3 linked regions of the Homo sapiens genome follow. The protein of the gene in region 3 interacts with the protein of the main gene of each other region in a biochemical or structural test. Each region holds a gene or a part of one and is shown on either strand. Other genes may lie near its edges.

Evidence for each region. Proteins that work in one complex are often made in the same cells at the same time.
Region 1: the proteins of HNRNPD (region 3) and SAFB form a complex in vitro, tested with the Homo sapiens proteins (one study listed by BioGRID).
Region 2: the proteins of HNRNPD (region 3) and IGF2BP2 form a complex in vitro, tested with the Homo sapiens proteins (one study listed by BioGRID and IntAct).

The regions. Positions count from the first base shown.
Region 1 is NC_000019.10:5,661,071-5,668,094, reverse strand, and holds part of SAFB (scaffold attachment factor B1), read right to left. Parts: intron 6,578-7,024; coding exon 6,287-6,577; intron 4,074-6,286; coding exon 3,936-4,073; intron 3,699-3,935; coding exon 3,656-3,698; intron 1,050-3,655; coding exon 931-1,049; intron 749-930; coding exon 645-748; intron 276-644; coding exon 209-275; intron 1-208. UniProt on the Homo sapiens protein: Binds to scaffold/matrix attachment region (S/MAR) DNA and forms a molecular assembly point to allow the formation of a 'transcriptosomal' complex (consisting of SR proteins and RNA polymerase II) coupling transcription and RNA processing.
Region 2 is NC_000003.12:185,822,031-185,829,071, forward strand, and holds the start of IGF2BP2 (insulin-like growth factor 2 mRNA-binding protein 2), read right to left. Parts: upstream 3,013-7,041; 5' UTR 2,931-3,012; coding exon 2,753-2,930; intron 1,384-2,752; exon of another isoform or gene 1,308-1,383; intron 1,184-1,307; coding exon 1,123-1,183; intron 1-1,122.
Region 3 is NC_000004.12:82,363,982-82,371,005, forward strand, and holds part of HNRNPD (heterogeneous nuclear ribonucleoprotein D0), read right to left. Parts: intron 1-7,024. UniProt on the Homo sapiens protein: Binds with high affinity to RNA molecules that contain AU-rich elements (AREs) found within the 3'-UTR of many proto-oncogenes and cytokine mRNAs.

The DNA.
Region 1 (7,024 bases), on a different chromosome or scaffold from region 3:
AGCTTCCCTGAGTGTTGCCTGCAGGCAGGGCCCCTTCCTAATGCCCTCCCCTCCTGAGTGGCAGCAGCCTCCACAGTACCCCATGCCTGGCCTCACGTCACCCTTGGGGGGAGGGGCACTAGCTGGAAGGACTTGGTTGTTAAGCCTCCAGCAAGGTAGGCCAATATGCAAAGCAGGGGGAAGGGGCGCCGCCCCCAGCATGCCTTACCCTGACATTCCTCCTCGGTTCATCATGTGGCCAGGCCCGGAGTGACCGGACATGCTTCTCTCGCCACCTGGAAGACAGACGTGCTTTCACACAGGGAACTTGCGCACACGGCGTGGAACCCACGGCACATTTAGCCCACTCCACTCCCTTTGGTGAGGCCCCCAGGTACCCACAACTAGCGGGTCCCAGGAAGACACCTGGGCACAGGGACCATAGACGTCCAGCTTCCTCCCAGCAGAGAGAACTCGGGAACGCCCACTGTCCAACTCCTGGGCCAGACCACCAGAGAGCAGGCGGTGTCTGGAGTGCTCTTCATTCCTCATTCCAGCACTGAGAGCAGAGCACCTCCTGTGCTCCCCCAAGGAGAGAAGGCGCGGCCTCCATCTTTCCATCACTCCCCAGCACATCCTGGTCCCAGCCCAGAGCTGCTCCTCACCTTGCCACCTCTTGTGATCCCTGTCCATCATGCCCCCGTCGGCCGTGCCCTGCCATGACCGGTCATCCTCTCTTCGGCCATGGTCCCCCCAGTCACGTCTGCCCCTTGAAAGAGAGACATCTCTGATTTGGATTGCCCCCATCTCTGGCTCTTGTGCTAATAACTGTGGCGGCTTCTGGAGAGTGAATCCCTCTGTGTTTCCCACCCTGTGCCCACATCCCAGCGACTTGCGGGCCCCCTTGTGGGCGGGGGGGGGGTCAGGTACTGTCGGGTGTGGGACACAAACCTGGGGGGAGGAGGCAGCCCCCGGCCCTCGCTCATCCTCTTGTCAGAGCCATAGCCCCCCCAGCCATCGCGGGAGTCCCGGCCGTGGCGCTCTGGTCCTCCATGGCGTTCTGGGTAATGCTGGACATCACAGAGCCAGAAGGGAAAAAAAAGCTTCAGTGTCAGCGCCCAGACCCCAAGGCTTTTCAGGCAACATGCTAACGATGACAACGACAGTCACTCGGGACAGAAGTGCTGGCAGGCTGTATCGGTTCACACAACACAGCTGCCTTCCTGAAATCTGCAGGCCAGAGGCCCTGTGCCCTAGGCTCATGGCCTGGTACAAAAAAGGTACTAGTACCAAGGCATCTCCAAGGCAGGTCCCCACAGCACCACCAGAGCTGGGAGGGCCACCAGGAGTCACCCACTAAAGATGATGCTTACAAGAGAGATTCCCTGGGTCCCACAGCTCAAATGGTTAGTTCCCAGAGCCAACAGTATTCTCTTACTGTCTTCTACTAAAGAAAGGTCAGGTTTATAAACCTTTAATGTGTGCATATTCTGGAAATAATTTTTACAAATTTCTTCCTTCCACAGTGAAGGAAGTATCAAATGGAGCCCTTCATCCGACCAATTGCTAGGCAAGCATCCTTCCTCACAGTCAAGTTTCTCGGAAGTTTCTGCTGGATGCCCAGTCCAGGGTCTTGCACCTTGCTCTGCTCAGGATATAAGACACAGGACACTGAGAGATAAACGGCTGGCCTTCCACTTGGCTAGTCCCACCTTTCCCTCTTCTGTGTCATTGTTTTTGTAAGCCACGTGGCTAACACAGACCAGGAGTTCTTGACCCTGCTGTTTCAGGGAAGACCAAGAGAGGGCGAGTCACACTCTATGCCTACTTATTTGATGGCCAAGGTTAATATTTACACCCACAGCCTATTTCTGTGGCTGGAAGCACTTTCCAGCCTGACTTTCACAAAAGCTAGTGAGGTAGCTTTGGCTCCACAGTCCTGTTTTTTCTCTTTCCACCAATACATATGTGGTCTCTGGGGTTTTTGCCCCATGACCACATTGTAGGTGAAAGGAAACTAGAAAGGAGTCCTGGTAAGGAAACCCCCTTGACACAGGCTGGTTGTTGTCCATGTCCAAGTTCACCTCCCCGTTCAACGGAGAGCTCTGCCAGGGTGAAGGGAGAGATGGCGGCATGCTCCACCACGTGCACGATGTCCCACGTTACCACTGCCTGCTTCCTGGCCTATCCTCCCAGCATGTGCTCTGATGCCTCCCCTCAACAAAGTAAGAAAAGGGACTCCTGAAATAAGCTCTCCTTAGTATTTGAAAATTGAACCAACATTTTTCTGTCCAACCAACCCACGTAACTGTTCAATGAGGCCCATAAGTTCTGTGCTAGTTTTCTCTGTAGGGAGATGTTACCATTTCCCTTTGGGGTAACTCTGACGACTCATTTATGACTGTGTATGTGAGGAGAAGGGATCAAACCGCGTTCCACTGTTAGGAGAGCATATCTAACACCTTCATGAAAGCAGCTGGTGGCCAGGTGTGCTGGCTCACATCTGTAATCCTAGCACTTTGGGAGGCCGAGGTAGGAGGATCACTTGAGCTCAGGAGTTCAAAACTGGCCTGGGCAACATAGTGAGATCCCGTCTCTATTAAAAAAAAAAAAAAGTAGCTGGCAATGATAAACACGTTTGTACAGATGCGCCCACCTCATGTAAACCCCCACCACCGCACCCTTTGTAGGAGGAATATTACCCTCATTTCACTCCTGGGGAGACAGGCTCAGCAGGAAGGGGTGACACCAAGGTGTGACGCCAGTTCTGATTCTGGAGCCTTTACATGGAACCATTGGTGTATGCTCCTCCACCAAAGAAAATCCACAAGACTAGTTCTACGTTTTGCTGCATATAATTTGCCTCCAGGAGCAGGGAAAAAGGAACCCCACGAGGCTGATGGAATTCCTGAGGATCCCGAGACAGAGCTGAGTACTTGGCTATGCTCAGCCACATTAAGGAACCAAGGGGGACAGAAGCGGGAAGCTTATGGTGGAGTCCAGAAAATGCTGGCAGGAGGAGGAAGGGCTCATGAGTGGAGTCCTCAGAGAGGAGGCATCTTCCACACAGCAATGTGCTGCCCCCAAGTTTATAGGGAAAGCCACTAGAGGTCCAAGGCTCTCCTGGGAAGTCTCAGTCTCAATGTAAGATGGAAGGAGAAAATGGAGCTTATTGTTCTAATGTGCTAGCCCCCGAAGAGAATGAGCACAGACCACAGATCTAGTTGTTTTCCAAGGCTAAGCTGGGCCCTGGGGTGATGAAGGATGTCCTTACTTTCAAAAGAGGGCAGGCACTCGAGGACAGACACAGCAACCACAGCCTCCCCAGATGCACCTGTCTGAGTCAGCTGTGCGGCTCACTAGACACTTCCCAGCAGAGCCAGGTCACATCCCAAGGTTCCCTGGCACTGTTGCACATGTGTGGTGAGTGTGGCACACAGAACCCCAGGGTCAAGGCTAAAAACAGCTTCAGAGTAACTGTTTGGACTGACAGCCAAGACTAACCCCAAATAATCCCAAATTTCCATTCCACAAACCTAGACTTTTCTAGTGCTTTACTTTTCTCTTTCCTCATTTTGCCTCTTGCTCAAAGAAAGGGCAGGAAGAAGGCACGCTGAAGGGAAAAGAACCCATTCTATGGGAAATTCTGTGGCTACCACTGTAGCTTCAGACTTACCTGTCCTTCTCGTTCTCCCATCATTGACCTTGAACCTTCTCTCCTGAAAAGGCAATTTAAATCAAACCGTAAGGGGAAGAAGAGGCTTGTTCACAAAGAGAGGACCATCAGGCCCCCAATGAAAAGCATAATTTCCCTAACTGAAGGCAGGAGACCTGCGGGTCTGACTCAGCATACATCTGATGAACGGAGTGGGTTCAGAGAGCCCAGGAGTCCTTGTTCTCAGTCAGAATGAGCCAGGAAAAAGAAAACCCGCACGCCCAGCAGGGGCCCAACTGACCTGTCCACCGAGTGGTCGGGGTAGCGGCCGCGGTCCCTGTGGTCAAAGTCGTGGAAGCGGTCCTGGCGGTTAAAGTCAGAATGGTAGCGCTCATCCAGGGCGGCCCGCTTGGCTTCCGGCCAATAGGCATCATCTCGCCTGTGAGGGGACATGAGACAGAGATAGAGGGATCCCCCACCCCAAATGTATCTATCACCTTTGTGGGAGCTGGCCCCTAGCACTTCACAGAACCAGGATGACTTTCACCAAGAGTGTTCTCTCCTATAGGAGGCAAGGTCTGATTTGACCCCAGTGACTGCACAGTTGTTTTGTTTTGTCCCATGCACCCACCTCCCCTGATGAAAAGCGGCCTCGGTTTTCCAAAGAGGGAGCCATTAGTTAAGCAGTCAGTCCTATGGGCTGCCTGCAGATGGCTTCTGGAGCCCTACACAGCCACCTCCGCTCAGGAAGACCACGTGAGCCTCCACCCCGAGGGGCTCTGTCAAGTGCACCTGCCATCTCTCTCGCCCCAAAGCTGACCTCCTGCCCTGCCAGCAGCCCTGGCCATGTACTGCTGCAATACACAGATGACCATAATGAACTGTCATCAGAAGGATTTCGTACCAAAGCATAATAGATCCTAGAACAGTTTACAAGGCCCTTTATAGAAGTTGCATTGTATATATGACCTGGGCTCCTCTTCAACCCATGCAATAGAAAGAAACAACAAACAGCAATTTTTGCCAGGTTGCAGTGCACGTGTAAAGCCTGACACAATCACTGCTGGAATTACACACCTGACTCCTCACAGCAGCCATGCTCAGCATTTTGTGTTCATACCTCCTCTTCAGTATGTTTGAGAAATTAAAATTAATCTTACTGCCGGGCGTAGTGGCTCATGCCTGTAATCCCAGCACTTTGGGAGGCCAAGGTGGGTGGATCACCTGAGGTCAGGAGTTTGACAGCCTGGCCAACATGGTGAAACCCGGTATCTACTAAAAATGCAAAAAATTAGCCGGGTGTGGTAGCACATGCCTATAATCCTAGCTACTTGGGAGAGTGAAGCAGGAGAATTGCTTGAACCCAGGAGGCGGAAGCTGCAGTGAGCTGAGATCACGCCATTGCACTCCAGCCTGGGCAACGAAAGCAAAACTCCGTCTCAAAAAAAAATTTTTTTTTAATTCTTTATTTCTAGAATAAGCAAAAACAAATTACAATGGATTTAAAAAGCCAGGACAAGGCCGGGGGTGGTGGCTTACGCCTGTAATCCCAGCACTTTGGGAGTCTGAGGTGGGTGGATCACCTGAGGTCAGGAGTTTGAGATCAGCCTGACCAACATGGCAAAACCCCATCTCTACTAAAAAAAACAAAAATTAGCCGGGTGTGGTGGTGGGTGCCTGTAATCTCGAATACTAGGGAGGCTGAGGCAGGAGAATCGCTTGAACCCAGGAGGTGGAGGTTGCAGTGAGCAGCGATCGCGCCATTGCACTCCAGCCTGGGCAACAGAGCGAGACTCTATCTCAAAAAAAAAAAAAAAGGAAAGGGCCTTAAAGGAGGTGCAGTAGGGCACGTGTGGCGCTCTCTACGTGCCTGAGCTTCCCTCCTCAGGAGGTCTGTGCCACCCTTGAACCTGGTTAGTTAACCAGCACTACTTTATCCAGCCTCCTGTCTCTAATTTTTTTTTTTTGAGACCGAGTCTCACTCTATTGCCCAGGCTGGAGTGCAGTGGCACGATCTTGGCTCACTGCAACCTCTGCCTCCTGGGTACACGCGATTTTCCTGCCTCAACCTCCCCAGTAGCTGGGATTACAGGCGCCTGTCACCACGACCAATTTTTTGTATTTTAGTAGAGACGGGGTTCTGCCATGTTGGCCAGGCTGGTCTTCAACTCCTGAGCTAAGGCAATCCGCCCACCCTGGCCTCCCAAAATGTTAGGATTACAGGCGTGAACTAGCGCACCCGGCCTATGCTTCCTTTGAATGAAAGATCTCAAGCTGGCCGGTCGCGGTGGCTCACAGCTGTAATCCCAGCATTTTGGGAGGCCGAGGCAGGTGGATCACGAGGTCAGGAGATAGAGACCATCCTGGCTAACACAGTGAAACCCCGTCTCTACTGAAAATACAAAAAAATTAGCCGGGAGAGGTGGCAAACGCCTGTAGTCCCAGCTACTCGGGAGGCTGAGGCAGGAGAATGGTGTGAACCCGGGAGGCAGAGCTTGCAGTGAGCCAAGATCGGGTCACTGCACTCCAGCCTCCGCGACAAAGCAAGACTCCGTCTCAAAAAAAAAAAAAAAAATCTCAAGCTAACTGGACTGTGAGGTCCCTAACACGATTCTGAACGCCACGTGCTAAGGGCAGCATGGATCTGCTTACCGGTCCAGGTCGTAGGGCCGCCGCACCGCGGGCCGCCGCTCCTGCTCATAGCGCAGTTCCTGCTGGCGCCTCAGCTCCTCGCGCTCACGGTGGATGCGCTCCTGCTCGCGCCTGCGCTCGTGCTCCACGTGCATGCGTTCGCGCTCCAGCCGTTCCCGCTCCATGCGCTCCCGCTCCAGCCGCTGGCGCTGGAAGGCCAGCCTCTCTCGGGCAATCTCCAGCCGCTCACGCTCCTCGCGCTCCCACTGCGCCTGCATGCGTTGTTCGCGTTCACTGCGTTCACGCACCCTGCTGCACAACAGTAGAGCTGCAGAAGGGGACCTAGACACCCCCAGCCAGGTCCCAGGGCTGACTTTAAGTAAGACGCTGGGTCGCACAGACTCCAGGGCTGTGCGTCCACTACGTGGTCTGCAGAACCGTACACTCCAGCGGGAAGAAGGCTTCTCGGGCCCACAGGAGCAGCCCAGGAAGATCTCAGGAGTGAGGCCCAGGCTGTGTGTGTGTGATCAGAACTGGGCCTCCTTTCTCCAACATTTCCTGGAGCTTGACAAGTGATTTCAGGAAACAGCCAGTCAAAAATAAGCAACAGGCCGGGCGCGGTGGCTCACATCTGTAATGCCAGCACTTTGGGAGGCTGAGGTGGGTGGATCATGAGGTCAAGAGATCGAGACCAGCCTGGCCAACATGGTGAAACTCTTGTCTCTACTAAAAATACAAAAATTAGCTGGGCATGGTGGC
Region 2 (7,041 bases), on a different chromosome or scaffold from region 3:
TCTCATATGCCACAGAGATTATTTGCAAACAAAAGTTATTCTGTTGCTTACTTAAAATAAAACATATCTGGAAATGTGGCACACAATTTTTAAAAATCCCTTCAGCAACACATCTAAGTATTTATAAAATTAGGGTAGTTTGTTTTAAAATCTACTCAATCCTGACAAAAATCAGGTGGTTAAACTATTGACTGATAAACTGTAAAGGTGGTCATCAAAAACTTCATTGAACAGCTCCAGTCCAGCTACTTAATGACTAATGGTGAAGAAATGTATGTGAATGGGATATAAACTAAGTTTCGACACACAGCAGAAGAAAAAAATTTAGAATGAGTAATAAAGGGCCCAAATTTAAAGTCCACAATAAACTTTAAACAAAGATGTTTTCTCTTCTCTTCTCATGTTAGCAAATCACTGTGGAGAAATCCAACCTCCACAAAACTTGTTACTCCGTCATTAACAACAGTGCACTTAAATATAACTATAGATTTCACAAGGGTATTTATTTTAGCCGCAAACATTTCTTACAAGCAACAACAACAAAATGCTCAGAAGCTATACTCAGTAGTCTCAGTGACTGAAAAAGTCCGGCTTTTAACTGCCATCCAATCCAAACAACCCACTTCTTTAGAAAGCTATGCAAAATATTGACCCCTTACTGAATTATTTTACTATTCAACATTAAACTATCTAAAAGAGAAAAGTAATTAATCGCTAAGTTTAGTTAAGCAATTTAGCTGACATAGTAAATATTTACTCTTCACATCTCACAGGAAGTCTTGACAAGCATTTGCTGCTATTCTGCTGGGGGTAGGGGCGGGAGGTGGGGGTGGGAGGCAATTTTTGATAAACAAGTTACAGGGTCCCAGCGAACTGAACATAGCTGGTGTTCGCCACCCCGACCCCCAATTAGGCACCAGATATTTTCCAAGAACAGTAAACACCTTATATAATGAAAGTAAAAAAAAAAAAAGTAGCTTTCTAAACTATGTATCTCCACTAACAAAACAAACAAAAGCCCCTTTAAAAACTACCAAGAGCACGTTTTTTAAAGCTGTGTGTACGTTTTTTACTTATACGTAAGGCCAATCGCAAAAAAAAAACTAAGCAAAGTATATTTACCTTAGCTTTTTAGAGACTGAGTAATCAACTTCCATGATTTTCCCATGCAATTCCACTTTACCTTTAAAACAGAAATTAAAGCACTCAGAACCTTGCTTAGATCAAGCCCGCGGGGGTCTAGGGGGGGCACGCACGGAACTCCACGCTCGGGCTCCGCCTTCGGGCGCCCCCAAGGGGTCTCCTACCCGGATCGAGCTGGGCGAACTTGGTTCCCAGTAGAAAGAAAGGTGGGCGCCCCGTGTCTCGGGACAAGGCGAGGAGGGTGCGAGCCCGGGTCGGACCCCAGGTATAGCCGTGGGTGGCATTACCGGAAAAACAAATTTAATAAAGAGCGGCGCCAATTTGAAAGGATGAGCTCATTTGAAACTCAAGCTGCAGGGCTGGCGCGGCCCCGCTGCTCTCCCGGCCCCCACCTCTCCATTCCGCTAATCCGGGGCCCGAAGGCTCCACCGGGCTCCCCTCCCTGCCCTCTCCTCCCGGTGGCCCCGAGAAAACGAGCCGAAGCCCCCCGGAGTCCGCCGCAGCGACAGCCCTGTCCCTGCCCGCTCCTGGGTGTCACCTTGGCCTCGCCGCCGCCCCGCCCCCACTCCACACGCCGGTGGGGAAGGGGCTCCCGCCGGGCCGGGGTTCGGGGGGCGCCGGCCGGGGCCCGGGGGCCCGCGCGGCTGGGAGCGGAGCGTGTGCTGGGGAGAGTTGGGGAGTGCGCGCGCGCGAGTGTGTGTGTGTGTCGCTCTCCGTCTCCTGTCTGGGCTCCAGCGCGCTCGCGGGCCCCCCGGTCGCCTCTTTCCCGGTTCTCAACCCTGGCCCCCACCGAGTTGAGACAGGGCACCTCGTAAAAAGGTGCTTCTGGCCGAGCGGGAGGCGGGGGGACGGGCGGCGGAAAGCCCCCAGCCCCGAGTTCTTCTCAATAAAATCGGACAAAAAATTCAGAGAAAAATAGGAGCGCTTGAGAGAGCAAGCGAGAGGGGACTGAGGTTCGGGAAAGGACCGAGGGGATGTGCCGTCGTGCGAGGGCTGGGGCTGGGGGAGCCCCGAGATCTCGAAGGGGGTCACCAGGGTGGCGCCGAGGGGGTGCCAAAAGTGGGGGGCCGTGGGGCGAGGTGGGGAGGGGGCTCGAAAGGAGAGTGCGGCTCAGGAGACGCCAGAGGGCGAGAGGTTCTGGGCACGAGGCACTGGAAGAGAGAAGGTCCGGCCGGGGGAGGAGGAAGAGACGCTGGATTTGGGGAAGGGGGGACCCTGACAAAGGGGGTGACAGGAAGGTCAGGGGAGAAGTGAGACAGGGGACGCTCAAAGGGTGGGGGGCGGGGAAGCTCAGAGCAGCCCGGGGCGCCAGGCGAACGAGGGGTGCCCCTAAGGAGCCGGCGAGCCTCGGGAGCCTTCGGAGCGGCACGGGGGGCGCCCCAAGGCTGCGGCCCCGAGGGCGAGGGCAGAGTCCAGAGCTGTGGGGGGAGGGGAGCGGGCCGTCCCAGGAGCGGGCCGGCGGCGAGAGTTGAGGGTCTGGTGCGTGGAAGTGAGCGTGCGGGCGCGGGAGCCGCCGCCGGGCGCCGCCCGCCGGACTCGGCCTCCCTCCCGGCGCCGTCCCGGCCTGAGCGGGGCGAGGCGGGGGGAGGGGGCCGCGCTGAGTGCTCACCCGAGAGGGTCTCGATGGCGCGGATGGCCCAGTTCTGGTCGGGGTAGTCCACGAAGGCGTAGCCGGACTTCAGCAGGACCTGTCCCGCCAGGGGCAGCTTCCTGTCCCCAAAGAGCTGCCGGAGGTCGTCGGCGGTGACGGCGGGGCTCAGGTTCCCGATGTAAAGCTTGTTCATCATCCGTCTCTTCCCCGAGAGCCCGCGGCTCCCCCGGCCCGGTACCCGGCGCTCCTCGCCTCCTCCGCTGCCCTCGTCTCTCCTCCTCCTCCGCCCCCCCTCCCCGCCCTCCGCCCGCCCGCCACCCACCCCCACCCTCAGCCTGGCTCCCCCCACCGCGGCCGGCCCGGCCCGCCCGGGGGCAGAGGCGGAGGCGGGGACTCGGCGCGGCTGCCTCCTCGGGGCAGAGTCCCGGGCCGGGCGGCGGCGCGCGGACAAAGCGCTCTCTCTGCCTCCCTCTCTCTCCCTCTCAAGGCGGTGGCGGGAGGAGGAGCAGCGGCGGGCGGCGGCAGCGCACCCCGCGTGTGTCTGTGTGAGAGTTTGTACGGGCGTGTGCGCAGCCGAGAGGGAGCGAGCGAGCGCCCCCTCCCCGCCCCGCGCCGCTGCGCCCCTCGCCTCGCGCCCACCGCGCTCGGCAGTGGCTGCTCGGGCTCCGGCCCCGCGCCAGGCGGGCGGAAGCGGGTCGCGGCCCCGGGCTGGGGCTCCGGGCGCCGGAACCCCGGGCGGGCGCGGCGCCGAGGCCGGGCGAGCGGCGGGGCGGGGAAGGCGCGCCCCGGGCGCGGGTGGGAGCGCGCGAGGGGGCGACGGGGAGCCGCGGGCGTGGGAGGGAGAGGGGCTGCGAGTGAGCGCGGAGAGGGGTGTGCGCAAGGTGGACCGGATGTGAGTGCGCTGCTGCCAGGGCAAGCGGGAAGGTGTGTCCCGGAGGTGAGAGGCGAGGGCAGGCTGGGAGACAACAACTTTCGCAGCGACTTGGCCGGGGCTGGCGCCCTGCGCGTTCCCGGGCCGTGCGCTCGCTCTGAGACCCGCTCCCCGCCACGCTCTCTGAGGTGACCGAGCGGCGCGTGTGGTCGAAGGATCGCGCGCGGGAGTCGGGACGCCTAGGACCGGGGTTGGCCGGGCCCTCGCGGACCGTGCTCGCGGGGAAGTGGTTCCCGGTCCCGGGCCTCAGTTTCCCGACCGGGGAGGGAAGGCGGAAGGCCAGCGCGGAGTCACGTCCTCTCCGCCCAGACCCCGCGTGTCCGGAACCCCGCGGCAGGCGGCAGCCTGACGTTGGCAGCTGCTCTCTATTCTGGGAAGTGCCGAGGGCTTCCCGGGCGGCGGCGGCGAAAGCCAGGTGGCGGGTGGGGAAACGAACGCCGAGGGGCCAGGGACTGCGGCGAGGCCGGAGCGCTGGGGTCAGCGGCCGGGGGACGGATGGTCGCCGCCCGGCTGCGCGGCCGGTTCAGCTCCAAAGCCAGGGTGGTGGGAGGCGAGGGTGGCTGGAAGCGGAGGAGCGCAGGCTGTGTAGGAGTTCCCCGAGCACTGGGAAGGGCCCGGAGAGGAAAGAGGTCCTTCCAAGCGGAGGAAACAACGTGACCGACGGAAGAGGCAGGGTTGGGATGAGAGCAGGCTGGAGCCGAGGGGCTCGGGCAGGAGCCAGACAGGCTAGAGCGGGCTGCAAGTTCCGGGGCCCGGCTGGAAGCCTGATGGTTAGAGCCTGGTCCCAGCCAGGAAATGAAATTCTACAGGAGGGAGAAGAATGGCGGGATTCAGAGGTGAGGAGGCAGAAGAAGATTCCAAGCTCTGGACCTCTGGGGGCCACTGGGAGAGTTGAAGGTTTGATCGCGGATATGTTGGGTTTTGTGAAGGCGTTGGGGCGCGGGTGCGGGGAGTGTCCTTGGGTGGAGAAGTCACGAATGTAGGAATGGAACAAGTTCGGGTCTCCTGACTGGGTCGTGAAGTAGTATTGTCTTTCCCAAGCTTTCCTGTTGATGAGCGGCGTGGAGAGAATGGGGCTTGCTGGATTTTGTATTTTCCGCAAGTACTCCCAGGTGATTCTGGTCTGGTAAACACTGTTGGAGTGGAAGGCCTATCTGCCCCGGACTCAGACCTTCTCTCTGCCCCCATCTTTGTGCCCTGAGATGTTCCAGCATTCTCGAGCCTAAGTTTCTTCATCTATAAGGAGATAAAATAACCAGTCCTCGCAGGGCTGTTGTGAGGGCTACAAGAAGGATAACTGCCTAGCGTGTTGAGACATGGGTGGTCAGACACTTAATGCCTGTTTCTCTTCTTTCCCCCAGGAATTCATGAACTTTTAAAATACTTTATTCTACAGAAGGAGATCTTCTTAACTAATTAGGTATCCAGAGGAGAAAGTAATGAATCCATTTTCACCTAGATATTTGCAGTTATTTGAATTCTGGCTTTTGTCTCAAGTATTCACATATTTTTTTCTCTCTCTAGAAAAAGAATCGGATTTTACTGCTCCAGGAGTTGAGAATGAACTTGGTTACTAATCCCCAAAGTAATAGATAAACTAGGTGTGGATGCTTCTTTACTAAATTGTATCAGAGAATCACAAATGAACATGACTTGTGCATGCATAAACCTCAGCAGACTGAACTAACCATCTTTAGATTATTTACACATGTGCTCCTAATTGATATGGTCACCTTTATATTATAGGACAGCATATTTGCTTATTATTCACAGGTACATGTAAAGGAGAAACGAGAGTGGCAGGAATAGTTGGCCTCATTCCTCTCCAACAGGTCAGAAAAACTTGTTGTTGTTGTTGTTGTTGTGTAGCATTTTAGATACATCAATTATTTGGTCTTACTGTGAGACGAAAAACACATTAGACAATGTACAGATTCTTGGCAGAGGTGGTGTATCAGTCCATTTTCATACTGCTCTGAAGAAATGCCCAAGACTGGGTAATTTATAAAGAAAAAGAGGCTTAATGGACTCACAGTTCCACACGGCCCAGGAGGCCTCCTCATAGCGGAAGGTGAAGGAGGAGCAAAGGCACATCTTACATGGGGGCAGGCAAGAGCACGTGTGCAGGGGAACTGCCCTTTATAAAACCATCAGATTTCGTGATACTTATTCACTATTGCAAGAACAGCATGGGAAAAACCCACCCCCATGATTCAGTTACCTCCCACCGGGTCCCGCCCATGACATGTGGGAATTATGGGAGTTACGTTTCAAAATGAGATTTGCGTGAGGACACAGCCGAACCCTATCAGGTGGCTTCTGGTGAACTCTTCTTACCCTGCTTCACCAAGTCACTTTGAAATTTTTTTTTTCAGAGAAATAATTGCTCTTTGCTGCAGTTGTCAGCTGTCCTGCTGGAATTTTGGAAACAGCAGGGCTGCAGAAGGAGGGCTTGAACTGTAAGTGTGATGGAGGGCATGCTTCCACTACACCCCTGGTTTGCAGCATCTACAGTGCCTTATCTTAGAATGCAGAGTTATTTTTCACATGATAGAGAAGGGGTTGGGGACCTTTGAAGACAATAGGGGACAGCCTCCAAGTGCAAAGTCAGAAATTCAGAGGCCTTGCTCCTGCCAGGCAAAACTTATTTTCTACCTGTTTTCTCTCGAGTTCCCCTACTTATCCCTCCCCCAGAGAGCTGAAACAGAGACCATCTTGATTGATCTAGACTTGGTTTACACCTGATAAGCCAAGATTTTATGAATGTTTAACAGAGGTCAGAAATTTGGAGAAAATCTTATAGTAGGCATATTACCTTTTAAAGCATGAATTAACTAATGTTTTCCTCAAGAGTTTCAAAGGCAGTACAGATCCTCATTGTTTCCCAGCGATTCTTTTGGGCAAGACAGTGATAAGGTGGCTGGGACAAGCTTTCTTAATCCTTCTTTTCAGGTAAGAAAACTGAAGCTCAGGAAAGTATAATTTTTTCTTAATCACATGGAGGGCCTGAAACACACCTGGAAAAAACATTTTAGTCTAACAACAAAGAGTTCATAAGTGTTAAGTCTTTTTCTTTTCTTTTTTTTTTTTTTTTTTTAAAAAAAGTCTTACTGTCACCCAGGCTGGAGTGTGGTGGGGTGATCATGGCTCACTGCAATCTCAAACTTCCAGACTCAAGCAGTCCTCCCACCTCAGTCTCCCGAGTAGCTGGGACTACAGATGCATGCCACCATGCCCAGCTAAAATTTTTTTTAAGAGATGGGATCTCACTGTGTTGCCCAGGCTGGTCTCAAACTCTTGAGCTCAAGCGATCCTTTTGAACCTACAAAGCTATAGCGGAATGTTTTTTTGCTCAACTGATAATGTAGTCAGTATA
Region 3 (7,024 bases):
GCTGCCTTTTTTTAAGACAGGGTCTCACTCTGTCTCCCAGGCTGGAGTGCACTGGCTCCATGACAGCTCATTGCAGCCTTGACCTCCTGGGCTCAGTTGGTCCTCCCACCTCAGCCTCACCAGTAGCTCGGACTACAGGCACCCACCAACACACCCGGCTAATATTTTTGCAGAGATCAGGTTTTACTATGTCGCCCAGGCTAGTCTTCCAACTCCTGGGCTCAAGCTGCCCACCTCAGCCTCCCAAAGTGCTGGAATTCCAAACATGAACCACTCCACCTGGCCCCCTGCCTCTTACTAATTGTGTAACATTAAGAAAAAATATTAAAGTCCAAGATTGTTTTCCCATCTGTAAAAAGAGCATACCTCAGATATTTGCAGAGGGTTAAAACTAGTTAACACACTTAAAGGACACAGAATAGTCTGACACACATCCTAAATGATTGATAGAAGTTACTATTTTGAAGGGGTAAAGCACTATAAGCACTATCTAAACATAATTTAATAAAGCAAACTTTTTATTTACTCAATGGCTTAATTTTTTAAAACTGCATAGGCTTTATAAACTTTCCAACATTAAAAGGAAAAGGCCACAATGAGTTTTATATAAACATATTCTAATATTTTCAATGCTGCCAACTTGAAATAACCCAGAAATTTTTAAATAGTCCATGTAAAAAAATATATAAACTAAAAATTAGGTGGTATTTCAACTAAGACCCTTTAAATGTAGCTTCCAAAATCACCTTGATGACTTGGTCTACCCTACATTTATGCCAGTAATTTTAGTAAAGAATAATTTAAAACATAAAAGGAAATATACATGGAGCAATCCTGGCTGGTGGAAAATGTTCCGATTTAATAATCCTGGCTTTTCCCCATCAATAAACTTATTCTCTGGACTATTTAGGTCACTAGGTTTTTAACATTCCCAGTCAATATTAACTATTTTATTCCAAGATACCTCCCCTAATAAGTCTTTATTGTCAAACACCTTATTCAAGGTAAAAAGTTAGCCATTATACTCACTCCCAATTTTGGAATAGTATTCTTTTTCTATGTTCTATAACTTCGTATTATTTTTACTTTTTTAGAGACGAGATCTTGCTCTGTTACCCAGGCTAGTCACAGAACTCCTGGACATAGCGATCAGCCTCCCAAAGTGCTAGGATTACAGGCATGAGCCACCACACCCAGCCAATCCTTTAACTTTTAAACACTTCCTAACAACTTATGATCTTACATACATGGCTTTATAACAAGTTCTGACAGTTTAAAAAATACAACAGAATGTCAACCTGATATACATTTCAGGTATAAAACATAAATGACCAATCACTGTCATCTTTTAAAGTAATGTTACTCAAGCACACCATTAAATCCTTACTGAATTTTTCCAGTATTTTATCCATCATAATTATTCTTCTAAAATCCTAAAATGACAAACTAAAGCTAAGTCACTAGTTACCTAAGGGGAAGGGAGGAGGTTACAATGCAACTAGATAATATCACACGTTAGGGTATTTTACAAGTTGTATGAAAACTACCTTGGGAGAGAGCTTGACAAGCTTTCATCGAGTTCAAATACTAACCAGCCTTTTTAGATCTGATCTGGTATAAAATTCATGAAAACCACTTTTTTGAGACAGAGTCTCGCTCTATTGCCAGGCTGTGGTGCAATGGTGTGATCCTGGCTCACTTCAACCTCTGCCTCCCAAGTTCAAGCAATCTTCCCATCTCAAGCTCCTGGGTAGCTGAGACTATGGGTGCACACCACGAGGCCCAGCTAATTTTTTTTTTTTTTTTTTTTTTTTGTAGAGACAGGATCTCATCATGTTGCCCAGGCTGGTCTGGAACTCCTGGGTTCAATCTGCCCACCTCAGCCTCCCAAAGTGCTATATTACAAGCGTGAGCCACCGCACCCAGCCCACTTTTTTTAACTATTTAAAACTAATGAGACATTAAGGTTAGCCAATAACAAATCTTCCCCAAAAAACACTTTAGTCAATAAAAATATAAATTTTGGTATTATTTCCCCATCATTAAAGAATAGGTATTCCTCTCCCCCAGCTTTCTACAGATGACATTTTCAAGGTAAGTGTGAAAAAGAATTCCATTTATTCAAGACTAATATACAATGGACCAAACATTTTCAGAGACTTCTCTGTATTAAATCTCATTACTTCACACTTTAGAATGAACCTAACTAAATGACTACTAAAAAGCGAAGTTGAAAAAATAAACATCTAATAAATGAAACATGACAGTTTTTTTGGGAGGGGGACAGAGTCTCGCTTTGTCGCCCAGGCTGGAGTGCGGTGGCGCGATCTTGGCTCACTGCAACCTCTGCTTCCCGGGTTCAAGCTCTTCTCCTGCCTCAGCCTCCCAAGTAGATGGGACTACAGATGCCCACCATCATGCCCGGCTAATTTCTGTATTTTTAGTAGAGACAGGGTTTCAACATGTTGGCCAGGTTGGTCTCGAACTCCTGACCTCAGGTGATTCGCTTGCGTCAGCCTCCCAAAGTGCTGGGATGACAGGCATAAGCCACCGCGCCCGGCCAACATGACAGTTTTTTAAATAAACTTTTTTTTTCTTTTTTTGAGACGGAGTCTTGCTCTGTTGCCCAAGCTGGAATGCAGTGGTGCAACCTTGTCTCACTGCAACCTCCGCCTCCAGGGTTCAAGTGATTCTCCCGCCTCAGCCTCCTGAGTGACTACAGGCGCATGTAACCACACCTGGCTAATTTTTGTATTTTTAGTAGAGCTGGGGTTTCGCCATGTTGGCCAGGCTGGTCTCCAATTCCTGACCTTAGGTGATCCACCCATCTTGGCCTCCCAAAGTGCTGAGATTACAGGTGTGAGCCACTACGCCTGGCCTAAAAATAAAACACTTTAAGAGACCAGGTCTCACTATCAAAATGCAGTGGCTCCATCATAGCTTCCTGCAGCCCTGAGCTCCTTCCTGGGCTCAACACATTCTCCTGCCTCTGCCTCCTGAGTAGATGTAACTACAACTACAAACACACCCCCCAACACACTAGCCTTTTTTTTTTTTTTTTTTTTAAAGAAACAGGGGTCATATTATGTTGCCTAGCTGGTCTAGAAATCCTGGCATGAAATGATCCTCATACCTCAAGACTTCTGAGTAGCCAGTGATTACAGGCACGAGCCACTACTTTAATTAACTTTAAATGCTTAATCCAATACCTCCTTTTCACTTCACTACAAGGAAGCAATGACATCTTGTATGTTTACGTTTTAAATAAGCTCTCAATCAGCTTTGTAAGGTAAACTCCCATTTACCTAGAGGTTAAGGAATAGGTATTTTCCTTAACCTGAAGGTTAAGGTTCTGGTTAACTGAGATTACTACATATTCACAATTCTATAAAACTGTGTACTGGAAATCAATTTAGGTATCAATGCTGAAGTCAGAAAATGATTTGTACCTTGATGAATTTTCCAACGTTTTAAAATCATGTTACTTTTCAAAAGTGTAAGGAAAAATCTGTAGGAGATTCATTCCATGACATTGTCTGTTGGTTGCTTTTTGAGTATATTTTCTCATGGCTTCATCTATCTTGCTCATAAGACTAAATGGGGAGACAGACTTCCTGGCTGTGTGGGCTCTGTGGTAGTCTGAAGTCTAGATAAGCAGGAGTTTACAGTGCAAGACCCAATACTTAAACTGTCACCTTGATTACTGGCCAAGCACCACCAGTAAATTGGAGTCTTCCCTCCCCACCCCCAAATATTCTTAAATACCTAGCTCCAACGTACAATATAATACTCCAGAAACTAAAACATGCTTACCTTTACTCCACAGGAGTAAATCACTGGCAGTATCAACTATTAGGGCACTGGATAAATACACACAAGCTATGAAAGCAGGCTATGTAGTCAATCCTCCTGTGGTGAGCATTGTTTCCAACACATAGATCAGCAAACCAAGTAACAAACATGTCGTATTACCTGAAACCACACTGTTGGAAGTGAAGCAACAGAAAGAGATCCCACGCTTTCAGCATCCAGTTCAGTGCCCTATCTACTAAAACGTTGAAGCAGAACTGAAGTCAAATCAAGCTTGGACTAACATAAGTTATGTTTCACCCATTTGTAAATGTGCACACACTTGAGGTACACAGCTTCCAAGTGGAATGGGAAAAAAAATTACTCTATTCCTTTTTAAATGCTTTCAAGCATGGTATGTATTATGACTTGAAGGCTAAAACTAATCACATCCTTCACGTTGGCATAAATAGTATACTCAATATGTATACTCAAATGTATACTCAATAGTATACTCAAAATGTTCTCGTATTAGGGCAGCCTTACCCTAATATTATGTATTAGGACGATAGCAGAGTACCCAGGAAATATTAAAAACATACACTGAGTTTGTAGAAAGGGTCACATGGCTTAAGGGAAAAAACCCCAGATTTAAGGCAAAGTATGTGTATCTCAAAAACAAGCACTGAAAAACTTCAATGACATTCTCCCAATTCCAAACTTAAAAAACGAGATTATTTTTAGTATCTTTCATAATAGATGAAAATTTACAGTGAGAAGTATTTAATACTCTTCGCTTAAATGTTCATCTAAAGATCTGGGGACATCAATTTCTGGAATTTTTAACTCGGGAAATTTGTCAAAGGCTCCCAAGAATGCTAACACTGAGACCAATCTACGCAGGGTCTCAACTTTACTACATACAGTAAACCCAACTGTACTGAATCAAAGGCCAGTAAATTTGGCATGAGACTACTCTAAAAGAAATTATTTTACAAAGCAAACAATGTTCAGATTGCCCCAGAAGCACTAAGGTATAAGACCATAATCTCAAACATTTAAAGCAAAAACATGAGCCTAGTCTTTTATAATCAGACAGGCAACAACCTACAGCAGGATTCACAGAATTCCCAAATGGGAAGAATCACACTTGGGCTCATTATACACTAACCATTAACAGGACAATATCTACTGTCCTGTTATTAAAGAAGCATTGCTGGACTTTGGCTAAGTGAATGGGGGGACTTTTTTGCTTCCTACCCAATCCAATGCAGGAAAGTCTATGTACCTACCTTGTAAAACTATCTCAAAGTTAACACAACATTGTAGTTTCCATTGATTTTTAAACTTTAAAAACTCTGCCCTCAGAGAGCTTGCTACATGGCATGTATATTTTGCCAGACACTAAATAATTTTAAAGTACCTACCCCAAATGAACTGCAGCACTGCAGAGAACAGAATGGGTCCACACCACAAAGTAAAATGAGAAATTCCAATGCTTATAAGTAAAAACTACGGATGTTAATGTGGGAAAGAGTAAATCAAAGTGAACTCAGGAGGGCATACTATGGAAATAATTACTTATTCTAAAGTCCCATAGTAAACTGTAGAAACATCCACTAGAGGTGTAACAGGCATGCCTTCCTAAAAATAGCTGTCCATTCTTACATGCAAAAGGAAAAAAACCTATTTCTAAAACCAACTGATTTTTAAAGTATTTTAGGATGAAACTGTAATCACTTTATTCTCAGATTTGCAGAAGGAAATGCACACAGAACTGTGTTTAATAAATTCAATTTGGATACTCTATTAACCAGTCTTACCCTCAATATTGAGACTATAAAACTGTTGCCCTTATAATATCCCTCAAAATGGGAGAAAGAGGAAGGGACAGATACGGTGGGGAGTGCAGACACCAAAAAAAAAAAAAGAGAGAGAAAAAAGTCTGAAAGTTTTTCATTCAAAAAGAAAGCCTTAACGTCTGGAACAGGATAGGGCTGCATAATTGGAAAGTTAAGAAAAGTCAAATATTAGAGCCCTTAAAAATGAGAACATTATTTTTAAGTGTAATTTTAAAATCAACCTGGCTAGGCCGGGCGCAGTGGCTCACGCCTGTGATTACAGCACTTGGGGAGGCCGAGGCAGGCGGATCACCTGAGGTCGGGAGTTCGAGACCAGCCTGACCAACATGAAGAAACCCTGTCTCTACTAAAAATACAAAATTAGCCAGGCATGGTGGAATATGCCTGTAATCCCAACTACTTTGGAGGCTGAGGCAGGAGAATTGCTTGAACCTGGGAGGTGGAGGTTGCGCTGAGCCAAGATCACACCACTGCACTCCAGCCTGGGCAACAAAAGCTAAACTCCGTCTCAAAAATAAAATAAACCTGGGTAAAATTTTATTTTCAGTAAATGACAGTTGGTTACTATCTAGAATGTTTATTAACTATGAATATAAACATTTCTCCATTTTTCCTGAGATTATTCAAAAAAGTTGTAATATTACATCGTTTTAGGTAGCAGGTCAAGTGTAATTACTTCGAAGAGTCAAAACACTGACCTTCAAATTTAAGTTTATGGTCATTTCAAATCACTGGAAACAATTACATGAGACTCAAAATACATAATGGAGTAATGTCAAATAGTTTATAGTTTAATCTTAATTTGCCACTATTAGCTAGCAGTGAAATTGAGCTGCTAGTGCCCACCACTCACCAAATACAGGGAATAACATTCATCGAAACTGTGACCCCAGTCTTTTTTTTTTCCTCTTTTTTGCTTTTCCCCTTGCCTGTTTCCCATCTGCTTTTTCTCCAAGGTAAAGCTGGACTGATTTCAGTGGATGAGAATACAGTGATAAGCAAATCTTTAAATGTTACCCTAAATAGGCTCTTAAAATAGAATGTAGCTTGTAAAGATATAAGTTAACTGCCTGCAAGTTAGTGGCCTTCTACTCTCCAGTGGTGGTGTATAAACCCCTGAAAATTCAAATATAATCCTAAAAGCAGAAAGACTGACATTTAGGGGAGGGGAAAGGATGGATAAAAAGAACAATACTCAACCTACCAGCCTCCAAAGAGAAGTCATGCAATTGTGAATACATGTCAACCAACTGTTATTAATATTCCAGCCAAATCACACTGAAAATAAAAAATCTGGTAAGAGCTGTAGTGGAAAGCCACATTAGCCCACCTTTTAATGGTATATATATACACACACACACACACACACACAC